Regions from separate parts of the Homo sapiens genome. Here region 1 is linked to region 2. Evidence: fine-mapped expression QTL. A gene starts in region 2. The other region holds a variant in brackets. All regions are shown on one strand. Distances are between the middles of the regions.

Region 1 (2,905 bases), 140 kb before region 2:
ACACCTACTAGAATGGCTTAAAAAAATACCTGACAATACCAAGTGTCACCAAGGATGTGGAGCAACCTGAACTCTGCCTGATACATAGCTGTGAGAATGCAAAATAGTAGAGCCACTTTGGAAAACAGGCTGGCGTTTTTTTACAAAGTGAAACATACGCTCACCACATGATACCTGGGAATCCCATTCCTACGTATCTACCCAAGGTAAATGAAAACATATGTTCACATGACTGTATATGAATGTTTAATAGAAGATTTATTCATGATTCCCCCAAACTGGAAACAACCCAAATGTCCATCCATACTTCGGAAATTACTTAACAGTAAAAAAGAAAGAAACTCCCAATACATGGAATAGCATGTATCAAAATCATTCAAGTGAAAGAAGCCAGGCCCCAAAGGTTACATACTGCATGATTCCATTTCCAATGTATGACAGTCTAGAGAAGCAAAACCATAGAAATAGGGGACAACTGGCCACAGTGGCTCATGCCTGTAATCCCAACACTTTGGGAGGCCGAGGCAGGAGGACTGCTTGAGCCCAAGAGTTTGAGATCAGCCTGGCCAACATAGGGAGACCCCATCTCTACAAAAATTAAAAGATTAGCTGGGCATGGTGGCACCCATCTGTGGTCCTAGTTACTCGGGAGGCTGAGGCGGGAGGATCGCTTTAGCCTGGGAGGTCGACGCTGCAGTGAACTGTGATCGTGCCACTGCACTCCAGCCTGGGAGGCAGAGTGAGACCCTGTCCCCACCACTAAATAAAAAAGACAGGAAGAATTAGAGAACAGATCAGTGATTGCTAAGGATGAGTTGGAGACTGACCACAAAATGGGATTATTCTGCATCTTAACTGTGGTGGTAAATCCACAGCTACATATCCATTGCCAACACTCATCAAACTGTACACCCAAAAAGGGTGAATGTTATCGCCTGTAAATTATCCTTTAATAAATCTTAAATAAAAAACCTGAATGAGTGCCAGAGATTTTTTACTTCATTTCCGTGAGCTCAGATTCTTTCAAAAACTGCTCCTAGGCACGTTAGCCAAGGCTGTTTCCTGGACATGAGGTTATCTCAGAACAAACCGGGATGGATGAACAGGCCCAGGGAGCCACGTGGCCACTGGTCAGTGCCACCCCTTTGGGAGCTCTTCTACATCTCTGAGCATCATCACCCTGATGTGGAAAGCAAGGAAAATGCTAGACTGTGCCCCGTGCACCCTAAAGCATGATCATTTCTTGCAC[T/C]GGAAGGCGCGTGACAGGAATCTGGAGTTGGGGTGTATGGATATGGCCCTAACTATGGGCTATTGTAAAGAAAATATGCAGCACCCAAAAGCAGGAAGTATTGAAAGCAAATGAACTGGCACCAGATCGTGATTCTCAGCTGCTCTAACACATTTGGAATGAGCAAGTCTTTAAATGCTTTTGTCAGCTTGCTTTAGGAATGAAATTTGGTATTATTAACACTATCCCGTATGAAACAATTATATAAGTGTAAATGGAAGATGTGTTTAAAGGGTCATGATGAAATTCCTAGAAAACGCTTTCCCAGTCTTTTTTTTTCTTTTCTTTTCTTCTTTTTTTTTTCTCTGATTAAATAAGGTCAGATAAGATGAGGACAAAACTAAGTCAGCAGGCAGAATTTAAATTACTTAAATTACTTTTCTTTCTTTTTTATTTTTTTTTCCTGCAGCTGAACTTCAGACTGTGGGAGGGAAATGAACAGCTTAAACCAAAGCTAAGCTCTTCTGTTCTGTATCAAATGGCAATTACTCTTCAACTATTTTTTTTCATCCGTCCACTCAGCAAACATCCACCACCTCAAACAAATTTGCTGAAAGAGGCAGAAGAGGGTAAGGGTTTGGAATGCATTTTATAAAAGGAGAATTGCTGAAGCCAAGTGATGCATACATTAAGTCCATTATATTATTCTCTTTACCTTATATATGTTTAGAAAATTCGTTTCTTTTTTTTTTTTTTTTTTTTTTTGGTGGGGTGGGGAGGGTACGTAGTCTCGCACTGTCGCCCAGGCTGGGGCAAAATGGTGCAATCTCGGCTCACTGCAACCTTTGCCTCCCGGGTTCAAATGATTCTCCTGCCTCAGCCTCCAGAGTAGCTAGGATTACAAGCGCCCACCACCACGCCCAGCTAATTTTTGTTATTTTTTTAGTAGAGACGGGGTTTCATCATGTTGGCCAGGCTGGTCTCAATCTCCTGACCTCGTGATCTGCATTCTATAATAAAAAATTGAGAGATAGAGGAGATACAAGGGGGGAGAGTGAGATACCCCAGGGACTAGAAGGTCTGAGTGCAGATCACAGTTCCTCCACATGTGCTGTGCACCCTTCAACACGTTTCTCAATCTCTCTGTGCTTTAGTTGCTTCTCTGTAAAACGGGGCTAAAAATAGTAACTACTCATAAGGTTGCTGGGGGTGAGTAAATGAGTTTAAAGCACATTTATTAAATGTGTAGGGCAGCAGGGAGGTAGGTTTATAAATGAATACTATGTGCTAGACAGAGAGAGAGGTGTCACACACACTCATGAAAATATTTCCTAAAGCCTGTAAATCAGTACAAAGCGTTTCAGAGAGTGTATTAATCTCTCTTCCTGAGTCTATCCCCTGCTTTGTGCTCTTGTTAGGTTTTACAACAAATTTATCTGTGGGGGACAAAGGCAAGGGCTCCATCCGTCTTCCATCACCTCCCCCAGCCATGCTATCACAGCTCTCCCTTCTCAGCCAGATGACAATCCCTTAGCCCTCCACTCACTTTCAGTTATAAGAGGAAAATAAGTTAGGAAACTACAACTCAATTTTAGGATTTACAAAGTGTGGCACAGCCTCCTGTGAACACTTCCATTCATGTCCAGTTCTCGGCTTCCTGCCCCTCCCCAGTCTAGG
Region 2 (2,905 bases):
CGCCTCATAGACAGATGACATATTCCTCCCATATACTACCTAAGCGCATTAGCTCCGCGACCTGGGGCCTTGACTTTGTCTGCAGACATCCAAGCCCTCCAATCTCCCAGGTTCCCTACTGGTACCCCACCAAACGCTGGGCTCTAAGACTATTTCCTCCTACACGTCTGCCCGCGCGCCTCCAGTCCCATGTGGCCCCTCCACTAGTTTCTGCGCTCGGGCTGGAGTCGCCAGGGAATGATTTCCAGTCCGCACGCGGGGACCGGGAGCCAACTGTACTGACATGTTTCCAGGATAAAACCAAATTTGCAGGTGGGGCACAGAAAAGAATCAGGCAAGTTGTTCTTTCCAGCAGCCCCGGCCATCTGCCCGAAACGGGGCAGGAAGGGTAAGAAGGAGCGCGCGGGAGCCAGGGTGTGCCGGCTCCCAGGCACAGGGCGCAGCGCGCAAGGACCCTGGGGCTCACCCTGTGCCCGGCCCGCCCGCGTCGAGCCCCGGAGGCGCCGGCGTGCGTCCTTACCATTCAGCTGCCGGTACACGATGTCCTCCAGCAGCGACAGGCGCTTCAGGACCGCATCCTGGATGGGGCTGGCGCTGTGCGCGCTGAGGTTGGCCACCTCGGCGCGCGGCCGGATCTCGTGGAAGGCGTCTCCGCTGCGCACCGCGATGGGCCGGCACTTGGCCAGGAAGAGCACGAAGCCGGCTACCGCGATCAAGTTCAACACCAACAGCACTTTGACTCTTCTCAGTGAAGCCATCAAACAGCCCGGCCGGCCCTCGCCCCGGACCTGCGCCCCCTCGGGCTCCGGCGAGGCGCGGGGCAGCCAGGGGCCGTGCAAGCCTCACACACCAGACGGCCGGCAGGGATCCAAGCCCCTGCTCGTCCCACCTCAAGGATGCTCGGGCGGCGGAGACGGCTGGGAGGTCGGATTGGTGGTGGGGAGAACGGAATCGCTCACATGGAAGTCCTCGCTCTGCAGAAGTGCTCCCCGAGACGCCTGCTCAGTCCACGGCGCACGGCCCCGTCCAGGCGTCTCCGCGAAAGGCCAGGGATTTGAGGGTTTCTCTTCTGCACCAGCAAGTGGTTCGCCTCTGGACCTCTAGCCGCCGGCGCCGCGGACTCCGAGGCCGGCAGGCGGGGCTGCCCGGGAGGCACAGAGGGAGCGGCGCACAGGTGCCGGACTCAGGGATCGCCGCCCGCCCACGGCGGAGCGCGCCGCGCCTGGGGCCGCACAGCCTCCCACCTTGGCCCGCAGGCGGCCGTCGCGGCGCGCCACCCGCGCTCTTCAGCGGAAGACCCGCTCCCCCGGGCAGGCGCCTTTGTTCCGCTCACCGACCCGCTCCATCGCGCCGGGCAGAGGGGAAGCCCGCTCGGGGAGCCCGCATCCTCCAGGCTCCGCAGTCACGCTCAAGTCTCAATTACTCTCAAAGTGGGGGCAGCACTAGGGGGCGGGCGCCGGGCCGAGCGCTACGTCCTCTCCGCCCCCCGCGCGGAGTCCACCCCACCCCGCCGGCAAACTCACCAGCGCTCACAGCGCCGCCGGCTCCCGGACACGTTCCAAGCCCCCAAACCGCGCCGAGAGCCTTCGGGGCCTTCAGGGCACACCGGCCTGTCTCGGAGCTGGCGCGTCGCGAGGCTGGCCGGAAGGAGTCGGACCTCAAAAGTCACAGCAGTTCTCTACCCCCTCCCAAAACGTCGCGGGCAGCGCGGCGGGGAGGTACGCGTGCCGAATCACCCTCCGCTCGCCAGATCCGGCCGCGCGGCTCGTCCCGCGCCCCCGGGAGCCAAAACGCCGAGTCTCCCAATTGGCGGACGCGGTGACACCGCCGCTGCGGCACCGAGAGCCACACAGCCCCGGAGCTGAGGAGCCCGGAGGGGACGCGCAGGTGGCGGCGGAGGGCGGGGCGCGGCCCGAGGGGAGCGGCGGCGGCGCCAGCTCCTCCTCCGCCGCTCTTCGCCACCCTGTCCCCGAGAGGCTGTCGGCGGCCGCCGCCGCCGCCCGCAGGCTGCCGAGCGCACAGCTCCCCGGTTCGCCGACTCGTGCGCGCGCGCACCCGGGCAGGGCGGGGGCTTCTGGAGAGTGGGGACCGCGCGGGATGGAGGCAGTCAAGGCATGCTGGCTGCGGCCGGCGCTGGAGGGACCCTTTAGTTCTCAGTACTCCCTGAGCGGGCGGGTTCGTTCCATCCCGGTTGGCGATGAAGACATCCTTTTCTGTGTGCTCGCGGCTCCGCGCTGCGTGGCCAGGAATGGCTAGAGGGAAAATCTGGCCTGGAGGCTCGGATTCTGAGACCTTCGGAGCCAGGCCGGGCGTGAGCGGGCTTGGGGGGGTTCTCTGCGTGCAAGAATTCTAACCTCCCCAGTCACTGCTTCTAGGCCCACCCGCTGCTCTGTTCAAATTTTATTATAAGAAGCATATTCATTTGGCTCCTGGTTTTCCACTACCTCTTCCTCTTCCCAAAACCCAGGAACTCGAAATACTGGAATTCAACGCCCCCCCACCCCGGTTGATCCATTTAATTCCTTGGGTCTAAAATAGAAATCAGGCCGCCAACTAATAAAAATCGGGCAGCAAAGCTAAATGGAGCTGATCGTTTTCCCCTCATCATTTTGATCTCATTAAAGTTTTTGTTTTTGTTTTTGCGGTTGTTTTGGTTTTTTCTGGGGCTTGGTTTCTTGTTTTGTTTTTGCCTGTGTATTATTTTAAGTTTTGATTTTTAACATAGAAATGTATATGCAAAAAAATAGTCTTTTTATTTCATTCCCTTGGAATTCTCTGCCTGGGTGCAATCGGGTCCTCAGGGCGCATGCTTTGTAAAATCTACCTGAAAGTGGACACAAAACAGTTAAAAAGGCCCAAGGGATGATTTTTAGCCACACATGTTAGGCAAGAGAGAGGCTGTGTG

Direction of the effects. Positions count from the first base shown, and alleles are read on the strand shown. Sizes are in standard deviations (SD) of each study's normalised expression.
For the expression in sigmoid colon of the gene that starts at base 1,417 in region 2, C is the low allele of the variant in region 1 and T is the other (small effect, 0.23 SD a copy in GTEx).

The links. PIP is the estimated chance that this variant, and not a neighbour inherited with it, causes the effect. A credible set is the group of variants that fine-mapping cannot tell apart.
Region 1: its variant is the best candidate, but not a certain one, in a credible set for the expression of GALNT17 in sigmoid colon (GTEx, PIP 0.62).

What each region holds. Positions count from the first base shown.
Region 1 is chr7:71,269,627-71,272,531 of GRCh38, reverse strand. All of the region lies in intron 1 of GALNT17 (polypeptide N-acetylgalactosaminyltransferase 17), which reads right to left. Among named protein-coding and RNA genes, the nearest start is that of MIR3914-2, 37 kb to the left of the region's middle. The variant T/C (reference allele first, on the strand shown) is at 1,250.
Region 2 is chr7:71,130,656-71,133,560 of GRCh38, reverse strand. It overlaps GALNT17 (polypeptide N-acetylgalactosaminyltransferase 17), which reads right to left and starts at 1,417. Exons shown (of 11, transcript NM_022479.3): 1 at 521-1,417. The coding sequence starts at 758.